2 separate regions of the Homo sapiens genome follow, and region 2 is linked to region 1. The links come from fine-mapping of genetic effects on gene expression. Tissue or cell type: whole blood. Region 1 holds a variant in brackets; the other region holds the start of a gene. All regions are shown on one strand. Distances are from middle to middle.

The links. PIP is the estimated chance that this variant, and not a neighbour inherited with it, causes the effect.
Region 2: it holds the start of DEGS1, and the variant in region 1 is fine-mapped to the expression of DEGS1 in whole blood (TOPMed, PIP 0.95).

Annotation. Positions count from the first base shown.
Region 1 is chr1:224,242,189-224,250,294 of GRCh38, reverse strand. NVL (nuclear VCP like) reads left to right here. Exons shown (of 23, transcript NM_002533.4): 19 at 1-83. Among named protein-coding and RNA genes, the nearest start is that of MIR320B2, 11 kb to the left of the region's middle. RefSeq lists an enhancer at 4,592-4,641. The variant G/C (reference allele first, on the strand shown) is at 4,932.
Region 2 is chr1:224,178,374-224,186,479 of GRCh38, reverse strand. DEGS1 (delta 4-desaturase, sphingolipid 1) reads right to left here and starts at 3,240. Exons shown (of 3, transcript NM_003676.4): 1 at 3,062-3,240. The coding sequence starts at 3,143. LOC124900425 (small nucleolar RNA SNORA72) reads right to left here and starts at 6,839; the gene lies at 6,713-6,839. RefSeq lists enhancers at 1-316, 868-927, 2,401-3,230, 3,565-3,654, 3,231-4,061 and 1 more and silencers at 899-1,193, 2,495-2,574, 2,735-3,114, 3,215-3,414.

The DNA of each region.
Region 1 (8,106 bases):
GCCCGGGCCGCCTGGACAAAACACTGTTTGTGGGTTTACCGCCCCCTGCAGATCGCCTTGCCATCTTAAAAACTATCACAAAAGTGAGTAAAGGAAATGGTATATTTTTGTATATGTTTCTCTTGTTTTAAATAGAGACAGTTATAAGAGGTAGTAATTTTCGTTGACTGATTACTTTCTTTTCTGTAGCTGTGTTTGCCCAGCCTATATCTCCCAAAGGGAAGGTGAACTGATCTTCGATTATTACTTTAAAATAATTTACATCAGATCATATTTGAAATGGAGTAGAAACTTTTGGAGAAACTGGCACTTTGGGAGGGCGAGGTGAACCCAGGAGTTTGGTACCAGCCTGGGCAATATACTGAGACTCTGTCTCTACAAAAGATAGAAAAAATTAGCCAGATATGGTGGCACCCACCTGTGGGACCATGTACTCAGAAGGCTTAGGTGGAAGGATTGCTTGAGCCCAGGAGGTCAAGGCTGCAGGGAGCTGTGATCACACCACTGTACTCCAGCCTGGGCAACAGAGCAAGACCCTATCCTTTTTTTTGAGGCAGAGTCTTGCTCTGTCACCCAGGCTGGAGTGCAGTGGCATGATCTTGGCTCACTGCAAGCTCTGCCTCCCAGGTTCACGCCATTCTCCTGCCTCAGCCTCCCGAGTAGCTGGGACTACAGGTGCTCGCCACCACGTCCGGCTAATTTTTTGTGTTTTTTAGTAGAGACGGGGTTTTACCGTGTTAGCCAGGATGGTCTCGATCTCCTGACCTCGTGATCCACCCGCCTCGGCCTCCCAAAGTGCTGGGATTACAGGCGTGAGCCACCGCACCAGACCCCGCAAGACCCTATATTTAAAAATAAATAAATAAGTGGGCCAAACACGTTGGCTCACACCTGTCATCCCAGCACTTTGGGAAGCCAAGGCAGGTGGATTGCTTTGACCTCAGGAGTTCAAGATCAGCCTGGGAAACATGGGGAAACCCCATCTCTACAAAAAATACAAAAATTAGCTGGACTTCAATGGCTCATGCCTGGCTGAGGCTGGAGAATCCCTTGAGCCCAAGAAGTGGAGGTTGCAGTCAGCCAAGATCGTGCTACTGCACTCAAGCCTGGGTAACAGACCAAGACCCTCTCTCAAAAAAAAAAATTGAATGACTTCTGTCATCCCACTTCTCACTACCTGGAACTAGTTTTTCTGCCCTTCACACATCACATTTTGAGGTCTGTAGAAGTGCTTTGTTTCTACATTTCTATAGCCTTGGGATGGGAGAGGGAGCTAAGCTGGTGGTGTTAATCCTTCTGGGGATGAAATCACTTGTACCTGGACCCGCTCTCTCCATCCAGTTGGAGATACCTCCCCCCATGGGAGCTGTCCCACTCCCATGGGATTGTACCCAGTTCTGTCCAGCTCCCTGGAAAGTGGCATACCTTGGCAGTTCTTCCTGAATCTGCTGAAATCCCTTGATTGTGTGTGTCTAACTTTTTCTAGAGCTATCTTCTCCTCAGGCTGCTTGTCTCCAGCTTGGAATATTAATAGACATCACAAGATTTTGTTAACTTACCTTCTTTCTTCAATACTCCTTCCCAGGAATGGACGCCTAATTATCAGCCACTTTCAAATTTTCTCTTCGCACCCACTTTTCAACATTTGCAGCATGAAGGTTTACCCCTTTCTTTGGTTGCTACTGGTAAATTGTTTAACTTTTTTTAGTATTCTTTTGATGCTGACAAAGGAAGATTCTGTGATCCTGCCTCACTGGGCCATCGTTACTTAAAACTGCCTTTAGCAATGTTCCTAAAAATCACCCCGAGGAGGGAGAACAGGGCAGATGAGAACAGAAGAATGATCATCTTTGTAGGGTAGAAAGATTCTATTGATGCACAGTATGGAAAATAGCTTGGAAGCCAGTAAAGTAAAAGTTATGAAATTAAGCATGTTAGAACTAAGGCAATATGACTGAGAAACATCAATGAAAAAGAAAAAATAACGAACTAAGGCATTATCACGGGAATAACAAAGAAGATATAGACATGAGAACTGTTTAAAGGTTTTAATTAGTAGGACATTGGATTAACTGTAGAGTTGGGAGTTAAAGGAAAAGGTAGATGAATTTGCAGCTTGTGCAGCTGGTGGCATCTACCAGGATTAGAGGTCTGGGAGATGAGCTCTCTGAGTTTCAGGTGCCTGGGCACTATCAAGTGGAAAAGTTGAGCAGGATGTTGGGTCTGTGGTTGGGAGTTCAGGAGAGTCCTCTGGCTGGGCTATAGTTTTGTCTGTCTTCAGGACATAGCTGGTGGTCAAAGCCATGAAAACATGTTGCTTTAGTTTAGTAGTTCTCAACCTAAGGCAATTTTCCCACCACCCCACCTCACGTCCCCAGGGAACATTTGGCAATGTCTAGGGACATTTACCACTACGCAGAGGAGTGATCATGCTGCTAAATATTCCACAGTGCACAGGACAGCCAACAACAAAGAATTATCCAAGGCCAGGCATGGTGGCTCAGGCCTGTAATCCCAGCACTTTGGGAGGCTGAGACAGGAGGATCACTTGAGACTAGGAGTTGGAGACCAGCCTGGGCAACAGAGTGAGACCCTGTCTCTACAAGAAAACAAATTTTTTTTTTTTGAGACAGAGTGTCACTCTGTTGCCCAGGCTGGAGTGCAGTGGTGCCACCTCGGTTCACTGCAACCTCCACCTCCCGCATTCAGGTGATTCTCCTGCCTCAACCTCCTGAGTAGCTGGGATTACAGGCGTGCACCACCAAGCCCAGCTAATTTTTGTATTTTTAGTAGAGACGGGGTTTCACCACGTTGGCCAGGCTGGTCTCGAACTCCTGACCTCGTGATCCACCTGCCTCAAGTCTCCCAAAGTGCTGGGATTACAAACGTGAGCCACTGCGCCTGGCCAAGAAAATTTTTTAATTAGTTGGGCATAGTGGCATGCACCCGTAGTCCCAGCTACTTGGTAGGCTGAGGTGGGAGGATGGCTTAACCCCAAGAAGTCGAGGCTGCAGTGTGCCATGGTCACGTCACTGCACTCCAGCCTGAGCAACAGAGCTGAGACCCTGTCTCAAAGGAAAAAAAAGTATTATCCGACTCAAAATGTCAGTAATGCCAAAGTTAAGAAACCCTGCTTTGGTTGCATATACTTATTTCTTTGCATCAAACAAGCTTGATGATGACTGCATCATAGCATCTTCTCTCCCTTTCGTTGGCTCTGTTTTTTTTTTTTTTTTTTTGACACAGTATGTCAAAAAAAGAGACCCTGTTTGTTGCCCAGGCTGAAGTGCAGTAGCGTGATCTCAGCTCACTGCAACCTCCACCTCCTGGGTTCAAGCATATCTCCTACTTCAGCCTCCCCACGCAGCTGGGGCCACAGGTGCGTGCCACCACACTCTGCTAATTTTTTTTTTGTATTTTTAGTAGAGACGGGGTTTTACCATGTTAGCCAGGCTGGTCTCAAACTCCTGACTTCAAGTGATCCGCCCACCACGGCCTCCCAAAGTGCTGGGATTACAGGCGTGAGCCACCATGCCCGGCCTTCTTGGCTCTGTCATTAGGAACTATGGTCTTGAGATTTTGTTTGCTTTGGTCAATGTATGTGGATGTGTATGTATATACAAATAAGCACACACATATAATCCAATTTTGTTTCTATGAATTTCCTGTAGTCATGGTGACATAATGATAATGCTTTCACACTTGTCCTTGGGATTTCATGAACTAAAGAGAAAAGTTGGATTGGTATTTATTTCTAGACATGCCAGACATGAGGCATGTGGTATTCAGAGCTTTATAGATTTGGAACCAGAGAATGATTGGCTCATTCTTCCTGCTGTGTTTCATTCAATGTATGGTACTCACACCAGAACAACTTTATACTTCATTCATCTAGAATTTCAGTGCTATTTGCCAAAATCATTAGGCCTCAGACCAAAGGGTGAATATTTAAAGTACCCCACTTCGGCCAGGCACAGTGGTTCATGCCTATAATCCCAGCACTTTGGGAGGCCGAGGCAGGTGGATCACTTGAGGTCAGGAGTTCAAGACCAGCCTGGCCAACATGGCAAAACACTGTCTCTACAAAAATACAAAGATTAGCTGGGTGTGATGGTGTGCTCCTGTAATCCCAGCTACTCAGGAGGCTAAAGCAGGAGAATTAGCTTGAACCCGGGAGGCAGAGGTTGTGGTGAGCCGAGATCGTGCTATTGCACTCCAACCTGGGCAACAAGAGCAAAACTCTGTCTCCAAAAAAAAAAAAGTCATCTGGCATAAATGGGGTGGGTAACAGAGAGGAGCCCTGCAGCTTCCAAGCACAAAGTTGTGAATATGGAAGAAGAAAAAAATCAAAAAAGACATTTCAATAGAGGTCAACTTTGGCCGGGCATGGTGGCTCACACCTGTAATCCCAGCACTTTGGGAGGCCAAGGTGGACGGATCCCACCTCCCGAGTAGCTGGGATTACAGGCACGTGCTACCACGCCCGGCTAATTTTTGTATTTTTAGAGAAATGAGGTTTCACCATGTTGGCCAGGCTGGTCTGGAACTCCTGACCTGGTGATCCACCCACCTCGGCCTCTCAAAGTGCTGGGATTACAGGTGTGAGCCACCATGCTGGGCCAAAAGCAACTTTTGTAGATTGTGGTTTAGACTGCTGCATAGTCAGTCCTCAGCCTCTGTCTGTGCCAACGGCAGAAGGGCTTTTGTTAGTTTATTCTCTTTGACTTGAGAGTGCATTTTTGCTCCAATTCTGACTGTGTCCTATTCTAAGACTTGGAACCTCATTGGGCAGAGCTGCCCAGGAGGAGCAGGACCCACATGCAGCCTCCCTGTGCCCTGTCTGCCTGCGTTGGCCTGGTGCCCTCTCAAGAGAGCTGTTAGCAGTGCAATTTCACATCCTTATCTTACCTCATCCTTCAGAGGTCATGAAT[G/C]TTTTTGTTTAAAAAGCTTTGTTGATGGCTAAAGCAGGGCAGATTGAGAGGAAGAGGAAGCACAATATCTAATTTCAGAGGGGAGAAGTCACAAGGCAGACTTCCTGCCCATGTATGTTCTTTGTAAGTCAACAGAAAGTGAGGAAAATTGGCATTTTTAATGTTTACCCTTTTTATTTCAGTTTGCTGGCTTTTGACTTTAATTCCTCAGATTGTTTTATATACAATTTTCTCTTTCTCCTATTAACATCTGAAATATTATAAGGAGATTAGAATAAAGATCTTTAGTCCTGTTCTTAAAAGTCTGAAATATTTTGTAGGTCAAAGCAACTTCTTCATATCTTTTGGGATCTAAGTTTTGTAAAAGAAGAGCGAGTGGGCCAGGTACAGTGGCTCACACCTGTAATCCCAGCACTTTGGGAGGCCAAGGCGGGCGGATCACGAGGTCAGGAGTTCGAGACCAGCCTGGCCAATATGGTGAAACCCCATCTCTACTAAAAATATAAAAATTAGCTGGGCGTGGTGGTGCGTGCCTGTAGTCCCGGCTACTCAGGAGGCTGAGGCAAAAGAATCACTTGAACCCAAGAGGCAGGGATTGCAGTGAGCCGAGATTACGCCACTGCACTCCAGCCTGGGCAACAGAGTGAGACTCCATCTCAAAAAAAAAAAATGGAGACCAGCCTGACCAACATGGCGAAACCCCATCTCTACTAAAAATACAAAAATTAGCCGGGCGTGGTGGCATGCGCCTGTAGTCCTAGCTAGTCAGGAGGCTGAGGCAAAAGAATCACTTGAAGCAGAGAGGTGGAGGTTGCAGTGAGCCGAGATCACGCCACTGCACTCCAGCCTGGGCAACAGAGGGAGACTCCACCTCAAATAAAAAAGAGCGAGCCATATACTACTTTTTTATATTTTTTATTTGGTATTTCTAGTGATGATGTGGTGATAAGAGGTCTATCACTAAAAGCTGCCTGAGAAGTAGAAATTTTTTTTTTTGAGACGGAGTTTTGCTCTTGTCGCCCAGGCTGGAGTACAATGGTGCGATCTCAGCTCACTGCAACCTCTGCCTCCTGGGTTCAAGTGATTCTCCTGCCTCAGCCTCCCAAATAGCTGAGATTACAGGTGTCTGCCACCATGCCCAGCTAATTTTGTATTTTTAGTAGAGACAGGGTTTTTCCATGTTGGCCAGGCTGGTCTCGAACTCCCGACCTCATGTGATCCGCCCTCCTTGGCCTCCCAAAGTGCTGGGATTATAGGCATGAGCCACCACGCCCGGCCCCCAGATTTTTTTTTCATAACTTCTACTTCCTTTTAAGTGTCATTAAAATATCTCAGAAAACCAGAAACATTATTTGATATCTGCCAAATACTTTCAGATAAAATACAGTCTTTAAAAGAGTGACAAGGCCGGGTGTGGTGGCTCACGCCTGTAATCCAGCACTTTGGGAGACTGAGACAGGCGAATCACAAGGTCAGGAGTTCGAGACCTACTTGGCCAAAATGGCAAAATCCCGTCTCTACTAAAAATACAAAAATTAGCTGGGTGTGGTGGCCGGTGCCTGTAATCCCAGCTACTTGGGAGACTAAGGCAGGAGAATCTCTTGAACCCGGGAGGTGGAGGTTGCAGTGAGCCGAGATTGTACCACTGCATTCCAGCCTGAGTGACAGATCGAGACCTCATCTCAAAAAAAAAAAAAAAAGTATGACTTAAGAATACCTGATATAATAATAGCTAACATTTATTAAGCCCTTACTCTGTTCCATGTAGTATTTTCATTTTACATTTATACACATGCTTAAACCTTGAAACTCCCTTTGAAGTGTATGTCTTACAAAATATTTAAATATTTTCCTTTTACTGATGAGCAAACTTTTTACAAACTTTTTTGTTGTTGTTGTTGTTGAGACAAGGTCTTGCTCTGTCACCCAGGCTGGAGGGCAGTGGTGCGGTCTTGGCTCGCTGCAGCCTCAACCTCCCAGGCTCAAGTGATCCTCCCGCCTCTGCTCCCTGAGTAGCTGGGACTACAGGAACGTGCCACCAGGCCTAGCTAATTTTTTTTTTTTTTTGTAGAAACAGGGTTTCACCATGTTGCCCAGGCTGGTTTTGAACTCCTGAGCTCAAGCGATGTACCCACCTCAGCCTCCCAAGGTAGAGGGTTACAAGACTGAGCCACTACACCCGGCCCTTTCATTAATTTTTCACAGTCGACTGTGTGAATAAAAATTGCTTCATGCAGAAGCTGGATTTTAAAATAAAAAATAAATAAATAAATAAAATTACTGGCCAGGTACGGTGGCTCACACCTGTAATCCCAGCACTTTAGGAGGCCAAGGCGGACAGATCACCTGAATGAGGTGATCTCATTCAAAAGTAGCTGGGTGCGGTGGCACACACCTGTAAATTCCAGCTACTCGGGAGGCTGAGGCAGGAGAATCGCTTGAACCCAGAGGCAGAGGTTGCAGTGAGCCAAGATCGCGCCGTTGCACTCCAGCCTGGGCAACAGGACGAAACTCTGTCTCAAAAAAAAAAAAAAAAACAAGCATTAATGATTCTAAACTCTGATGTGTAGTTAAGAATAGATTTAAGAATAAATTTGGTTGGGCATGGTGACTCACACCTGTAATCCCAGCACTTTGGGAGGCCGAGGCAGGTGAATCACCTGAGGTCAGGAGTTTGAGACCAGCTTGACCAATATGGTGAAAGCCCATCTCTGCTGAAAATACCAAAATTGGCCAGGCATGGTGGCGTGCACCTGTAGTCCCAGCTACTCGGAAGGCTGAGGCAGGAGAATCGCTTGAACCTAGTGAAGTGAGATCACGCCACTGCACAGCCTGGGCATAGAGTGAGACTCCGTCTCAAAAAAAAAAAAAAAAAAGAATAGATTTGTATGACCAAATGAAAATATTTGTTAAAATAAAAGTAGTAGCACATCTTGAATTACTTTTTGAACCTGAGTATTTCATAACATATAATGTTTAATACGAATTATAGGAAAATATCAGTGTAAATGAGCCATAACTTTTTTCAGATTTTAGTAAAATACTATAGATACATAACATAAAATTTACCATTTTAGCCATTTTTAAGTATATATTTCTGTGGCATTAAGTACATTCACATTGTTGTGCAACCATCACCACTACTCATCTCCAGAACTTTTGCATCTTCCCAAAC
Region 2 (8,106 bases), 64 kb after region 1:
AGCCTCCTAAAGTGCTGGGATTACAGGCGTGAGCCACCATGCCCGGCCAAGAAATATGTGGTCCTTTTACTTTCCCAGTGAAATGGTTCAGTGATAAGTCTGTGGGGGGAAAAAAGGCTCAGTGTGAGGTAAGTATCAATCAGCACCTTCTCACTTCCTTCATCTCTTTTTCTTGAGACAGTCTCACTCTGTTGCCCAGGCTGGAACGCGGTGGGGCAATCACGGCTCACTGCAGCCTCTACCTCCCCAGCTCAAGCAATCCTCCCACCTCAGCCTTCTGTGTAGCTGGGACCACAGGCACATGCCACCATGTCCCGCTAATTAAATTTTTTTTTTTTTGGTAGAGATGGGGTTTTGCCATGTTGCCCAGGTTGGCCTCGAACTCCTGAGTTCAAGTGTTCCTCTCGCCTCAGCCTTCTGAGTAGCGGGACAGGCATGCACGCCTAGCTAATTTTTTAATTTCTCGTGCAGATGGGGCTGTTCTGAACTGGCCTCAAGCGATCTTCTTGCCTCAGCTTCTCAAAGTGCTCGGATTACAGGCAAAAAAAAGCCACCACACCCGTCCTGATTTTCAGAATATTAAGTAGCTCAGTTTCAGTATTCCAGAGTTGGTTTTTACACAGGTAGGACGCTAGATTATTCCTATGTAACATGTAGATAAGGCATTGATAAAATATATCATATGTGGCCTGGCAGGGTGGCTCACGCCTGTAATCCCAGGACTTTGGGAGGCCATGGCAGGCGCATCATCTGAGACCAGCCTGGCCAATGTGGCAAAACCCTGTCTCTACTAAAAATAAAAATAGAAAAACTTAGCCAGGTATGGTGGCGGGCGTCTGTAATCCCAGGTACTCGGGAGACTGGGGCAGGCAGAACTGCTTGAACCCAGGAGGGAGAGGTTGCAGTGAGCCGAGACTGGGCCACTGCACTCCAGCCTGGGTGACAGAGTGCGGCTCCGTCTCAAAAAAGTATCATGCTATCTCATATCAAGTATGTGTAAGTGATGTGCCAAACAAATTGCTACTGGCAGGCTGAGGTATGCGGACCACTGGAGCCCAGGCTGCAGTGATCATCATGCCTGTGAACAACCACCGCACTCCAGCTTGGGCAACAAAGCAAGACCCTTTCTCTAATGGAGTGTAGGGGAGGAGGAAGAAGAGGAGGAAGGGAATTCAAGAACCCAAAGTTACCGGGTGCAGTGGCTTACGCCTTTAAAATCCCAGCACTTTGGGAGGCCAAAGCGGACAGATTGCTTGAGCCCAGGAGTTCAAGACCAGCCTGGGCAACACGGAGAAACCCATCTCTACAAAAAATAGAAAAATCAACCAGGCATGGTGGTGTGCGCTTGTGGTCCCAGCTACTTGCTTTTTCTTTTCACTGGGCAAATGAATGTTGAGAAGAAAAACTAAGGAAATACTATATATAAGGAATAATTGCTCATGTTCAACTCACCGTTTCCTCAATTTAAAAAAAGTGTGTGTGTGTGTGTGTGTGTGTGTGTGTGTGTGTAAACGGGGGGCTCTCACTATGTTACTCAGGATGGTCTCAAACTTCTGGGCTGAAGCGATCCTCCCGCCTCAGCCTCCCGAAGTGCTAGGATTACAGGCCTGAGCTACCGTGACCGGTCCCCGTTTCCTCAACAGAGGTTAAAAAGCTCGTGCTCTGGCCGGGCACGGTGGTTCACGCCTGTAATCCCAAAACTTCGGGAGGCCAAGGCGGGCGGATCACCTGAGGTCAGGAGTTCGAGATAAGCCTGGCCAACATGGTGAAACCCCGTCTCTAACTAAAAAAGATACAAACATTAGCCAGGCGTAGTGGTGGGAACCTGTAATCCCAGCTACTCGGGAGGCTGAGACAGAAGAATCGCTTGAACCCAGGAGGCAGAGGTTGCAGCGAGTGGAGATCGCGCCACTGCACTCCAGCATGAGCAACAGAGTGAGACTCAGTCTCAAAAAACAAACAAACAAACAAACAAAAAACAAACACGTGCAGTCTCAAAAAACAAACAAACAAAAAACAAACACGTGCTCTGGAAGAGGCAACCGAATGCGCATTAGAATCCCCCTAGCATTTAGTCACGCGTTCTTATTTCATTTTTTAAAACAGCGATAATACCAACCAAGTAGAATTACCAAGAGGATGAAATTGGGTAATGTTTGTAAAGCATTCCACACAATCCCTAGCATATTAGGAGTAGCCTGGGAGAGATGAGCATTCTCTATGTAACACAGAAGGCCCGAATCCTCTGGAGAGTTAAGGCCTCTCAATTAGCTGTCAGGGGACCAGCAGGCCACGCCACATATTTTCCTTATTTGGCAAGTCTTCCATTTTCAGTCTTTTCATCCACAAAACCGAGATGGATGAAAAATGCCTACGAATCCGCCGTTCTTACGTCCCAGGCTTGTCGTGAGGATCAATGGGACAAGCGGCGTGAACCGACCAGGGCCCATCAAGTCCGAGAAGCCCCGGGGGGCATATGGAGGGACGCCGGCCCCCTTAACGGGCCCAAGGCCGGGACTGCGGCCGCCCCCGCCAGTACTGCCCGCCGGCGCCCGACACCCTGAGCAGGGCTCGCTGGTAGGCCCAAGGATGCCCAGGACCACACCCTGCCTAGCACTCAGGCAGCCCCAAGGCCGGCACCCGCTCACCTCGGCCCGCTCCGGAGGAGAGGGAGTGGTGAGAGGAAAGGGCGCCCACCTGAGGGCACAGGAATCTTCTAGCGAAAAGATCTACTCAAGGCTGGCACAGCCGGGGACACCCTTCGCCCCAACCGGCCGGCGTGGGCCTGGCGGGGACTCCCGCGCTCGGGGACGCGCCTGCGCCTCTTCGCGGAAGGGTCGGAGCTGCGCGGCTCCGAGGACCCGTCCCTCCCCCCGCTCCTCGCCCAGCCTCTCCCGCGCTGACCCGCGGGCTGGCGGCCCGAGCGGCGACGGGACGCGACGGGGAGCAGGCTGCTAACGGGCCTCCGGCGCCCACGACCGCGCAGGGCCCGCGAGGGGAGAGCGCGCCCCGGCGCCGGGAGGCCACGCACGCACATAACGGGGCGCCCGCTGGCCCTCACCCAGGATCTCCCGGCGCCGGTCGGCGTGCGGCTGGTCGGTGTAGACCCACTCGAAGTCTTCCCGCGAGACGCGGCTCCCCATGGCGACAGCGGTGGCTTGCAGACTAGCTGTCGGCTCTCGCTCCCAGCCGGCTGCTCAGAGGTGGCGGCGGCGGCGGCGGCTCCCCGGCTGGTGTGGTGTCGGCCGGCTGTGGCGGAGCGCGGAGGAGACGGAGGCGTGGGCGGAGTCCCGAGGCCCCGCCCCCCCCGGCCCGCCCGCCTGCCTCTCTGGGTGGAGGGCGCGTGGCGCTCCCAGGCCCCCGTGCGGGGCCGGCTCTCAGCGATTCTGGGACGCGGGGTTCTGAGCTTCGGTGACTCGGCCACCATCCAGGATGCCGCGTTCTTGCGAGTGCCCGCCCCTGCGGCCTGCTGCGCCGGAGCCCGGAGAAGATGAAAAAGGAAGGAATGGTCTCAAGTGAGATAAACCTGCCGCCCTAACGCCTCCGCGAGGGGAGCACCGGGCACGGCTACGGTCACACCGAGTCTGGAGGCCCCGGAGCCCTTCTTAAATGGCAGCTGGCCTAAGTTTTGTTTAATTTTTAAAAAGCAAATTAGCCATTGAGTCATATTTCGCTGCCTTCTGGAAATAATACCTCAGGGAAAAAATGCAGAGTGCGTGACAATTAAAAGCTAATCAAGTAAAAAGAAAACACCATTATTAAGAGGGGGTGATGATGTGGGATTTGTTGTTGTGCTTGAATTATTCTAGTGTGACCACTTCTGTTAAGAGATGATTGCTCAACCTTGCATCTACCTGTCGCAGAAGTAATCAACCACAACCTCTTCCTGAAAGAAAGGTTTTGAAACGAAACTAATTTTGTTTCAACATTAGTTACCACGTCTACATCAAAGAGCAACTTAAAGATTACAAAAAGAAGATAACCAAAGCAGGTGTGCCTCCTAGTCAAAGAACATGCTGTGCACGCGCACACGGCACACACACACACACAAATCTGATCGAGCCCCTAGATCTGACTGTTAATTTATAGAAAATAGAAAGGACATTTGGCCGGGTGCGGTGGCTCACGTCTGTAATCCTTGCACTCTGTGAGGCAGAGGCGGGTCCATCACCTGAGGTCGGGAGTTCGAGACCAGCCTGATCAGGATGGTGAAACCCCCGTCTCTACTAAAAATATAAAAAAATTAGCTGGGCGTAGTGGCAGGCGCCTGTAATCCCAGCTACTCAGGAGGCTGAGGCAGGGGAATCGCTCGAACTGGGAGGCAGAGGTTGCAGTGAGCTGAGACGGAGCCACTGCACTCCAGCCTGGGGGACAGACGGAGACTCCCTCTCAAGAAAAAAAAAAGAAAATAGAAAGGACAGAGGAATGTGTTAAACTAGGCCGTGGGGATGAAACTAGCAAGATCCAACTCTGGGAGACTATATGGGACAATGTCTGGGTTCTCTAATAAATGAAACTCAAGGCAAAAAAAGAGAAACCTGTAGATTAAAAGGAGTTTAAAAGACATACCAACCAATTGCAACGTGTTGACCTCATTTAGATTCTGATTGAAATAGTTTAAAAACATTGACATGAAATAATTGAACTCAGATATCAATTGGATATGTGATGATATTAAGGAATTATGAATTTCTTAAGTGTGATAATAGTATTATGGTTATAGTGGGTTTTGTTTTTTTTGAGACAGAGTCCTGCTCTGTTGCCCAGGCTGGAGTGCAGTGGTGGCCTCATGTCTCACTTCAGTCTTGACCTGAGCTTAAGCCATCCTCCCACCCCAGTCTCCCGAGGAGCTGGGATCACAGGCGTGCACCACCATGCTTGGCTACTTTTTTGAATTTTTGATAGAGATGGGGCCTCACCTTGTTGCCCAGGCTGGTCTCAAACGCTTGGGCTCAAGTGATCTCAAAGTATTGGGATCACAGGCATGAGCTACTACATCCGACCCCAGGAGCATTATTAATAAGTCCCTAAGACCCTCTCAGTACATTCACTTCTGAAATAGAGAGGGCCAGCACGGCTGAGACATCTAGCAGAGAAGGCTGTGAGAGCAGAGGGGAGACAGAACAGTGACACCTGGAGTGGAGGCCTGAAGGCTGATCAGAGCCCAGCGAGGGTCATGTCTGCAGGGCATGCTAGCAAATGCGTGGCTGGGTCAGCCTCCAGAGGGTCCCAGTCTCGAAAAAGGAGTGGGATTTGATGATGGATAGATACACAGGTCTGATCATGCAGGAGCTTTTTAGTTGTTAATGAAATGGTGGAGGAAAAAGAAGGTGGGGAGTGTCACCTGGAAAAGGACAGCTTTGTATTTGCCAAGTTTCATCTGGATTGGCAGATGGCACATGAAGCTGATAATTGGACTCAACTCAGGAGGAAGTTTTCAGGTGCTGACAAGTAAATGTATCCCTGCAGTTCAGAACGCAGTTGCTATCACAGGCATGTGTGAACTGGCACACCAGTCCAAAAGGTGTGCGGAGGCTTACGTCTGTAGTCTGAGCACTTTGGGAGGCCGAGGTAGGGGGATCGCTTGAGGGCAGGGGTTCGGGACAAGCCTGGGCAACATGGCAAAAACCCACCTCTATAAAAAATACAAAAATTATGCCGGGTATGGTGGCTCATGCCTGTAATCCCAGCACTTTGGGAGGCCAAGGCGGTCTCCAAGGTCAGGAGATCCAGACCATCCTGGCTAACACGGTGAAACCCCATCTCTACTAAAAATACAAAAAAAATTAGCCAGGCATGGTGGGGGGGGCGCCTGTAGCCCCAGCTACTTGGGGGGCTGAGGAAGGAGAATGGCATGAAACCGGGAGGCGGAGCTTGCAGTGAGCCGAGATCGCACCACTGCACTCCAGACTGGGCGACAGAGCAAGACTCCGTCTCAAAAAAAAAAAAAAAAAATTTAACTGGGCGTGGTGGCCCATGTTTGTGGTCCCACCTATTGCTGAGGCTGAGGTGGGAAGATTGCTTGAGCCCAGGAGGTCGAGGCTTCAATGAGCTGAGAAATGAGCTGAGATTGTGGCACTGCACTCTAGCCTGTGTGACAGAGTGAGGCTTTGTCTCAAAAACATTAAAAAATAAAAGAAAGAAAGAAAAATGCAGAGTTTGAAAAAAAATGTGAATCTGGATATACCATTTTTTTTTTCTGAGATGGAGTTGCGCTCTGTTGCCCAGGCTGGAGTGCAGTGTCAAGATCTTGGCTCACTGCAACCTCTGCCTCCTGGGTTCAAGCGATTCTCCTGCCTCACCCTCCCGAGTAGCTGGGATTACAGGTGTGTGCCACCACGTCCAGCAACTTTTTGTATTTTTACTAGAGACGGGGTTTCACCATGTTGGCCAGGCTGGTCTTGAACTCCTGACCTTAAGTGATCTGCCCTTCTTGGCTTCCCAAAGTGCTGGGATTACAGGCATGAGCACCACACCTGGCTTGGACATTCTTTTTTTTTAAAAAAAGTTACAATTCATTTAATAGCAACTGGTAATCATGAAATTTTCTTATTTTGTTTAAACCCTCTTTAAACAAAAGTCTGCAAATTAGCACTGATCATTTGCAAAAGTCATTACATATACTGCCATTTTTCTTAAGGTTGACCAAAGATAACCTAGAATTATAGCCGTTACATAATCACACAAAATGATTATATATTAATCAGACCTGGTTTATCACCAGCATTTATAAAAACAGACGTAGGGAAAGAACTAGGTCTAGGGACACGTACATGGTCTTAATATAGCGACTGTTTATCCTGTCCTGACTATTACAAAATCAATTTTGACATTCTAAAGTAAACTATTTGAGCTACAGGATTGTCATGGGCATTGATAGCTATTTTAATGATGTCTAGGCATGCTTCTTTAATTTGGACTTTTAAAAGTTCTTAATATATACGCGTAATAAAAAAGTAAGCTAAGAAGTATAGCCAGGCATGGTGGCTCACGCCTGTAATTCCAGCACTTTGGGAGGCCGAGGTGGGTGGATCACAAGGTCAGGAGTTCACGACCAGCCTGGCCAAGATGGTGAAACCCCGTCTCTACTAAAAATACAAAAATTAGCTGGGCATGGCGGTGGGTGCTTGTAATCCCAGCTACTTGGGAAGCTGAGGCAGAAAACAGCTTGAACCCGGGAGGCGGAGGTTGCAGTGAGCTGAGATTGCACCACTGCACACTAGCCTGGGCGACAGAGCGAGACTGTCTCAAAAAAAAAAAAAAGAAGTATAAATAAAATGCCTTGAAGTTTTAAAAAAAGATTCTTAATGGATTATCTAGCTTTCACATCTTTTCCTTAACCTTGTCAAATAATTTGTCTTGAAGCAAACATACTAGTTATTCTGGAAAAACGCTCTCCAGTCGGCTGTTGGAAGCTGTGGTGAATCGCAGCCAGCCATGATCATATTAGGAAATTTAAGATGAAGTAGTTTTCAGATGAGGGCAGCTGTACTTTTGAAATCAATATGGATTTTTCCTTTTCCATCTGCTTGATTTTTGAAAGGGCAGTTTATTTTTGAGGCCATTTCAATAGTGATAACAGTTGAGATTGAATGGTATTGACTACTGTAATTCATAGAAGAGTAATACAGAAAACATTCTTTATTCACTTCAAGCAAATAATCGTAAGAATTTTATGTTATCTATTTCTTTTCTTTTCTTTTTATTTTATTTTTGAGATGGAGTTTCGCTCTGTCGCCCAGGCTGGAGTACAATGGCCCAATCTTGGCTCACTGCAATCTCCGCCTCCTGAGTTCTGGTGATTCTCCTGCCTCAGCCTCCCGAGTAGCTGGGATTACAGATTCATGTCACCACGCCTGGCTAATTTTTGTACTTTAGTTTCACCATATTGGTCAGGCTGGTCTCGAAACTCCTGACCTCAGGTGATCCACCTGCCTCAGCCTCCCAAAGTGCTGGGATTACAGGCATGAGCTACAGCGCCTGGCCCAAATTCATGAATGTTTTAACTATAAATTTACATGTGCTAATTTTATATTTAAATAATACATTTTAAGTAAGAAAAATATATATTGACAACTAATTACTGACTAGAGTAGTTGTCTGTTA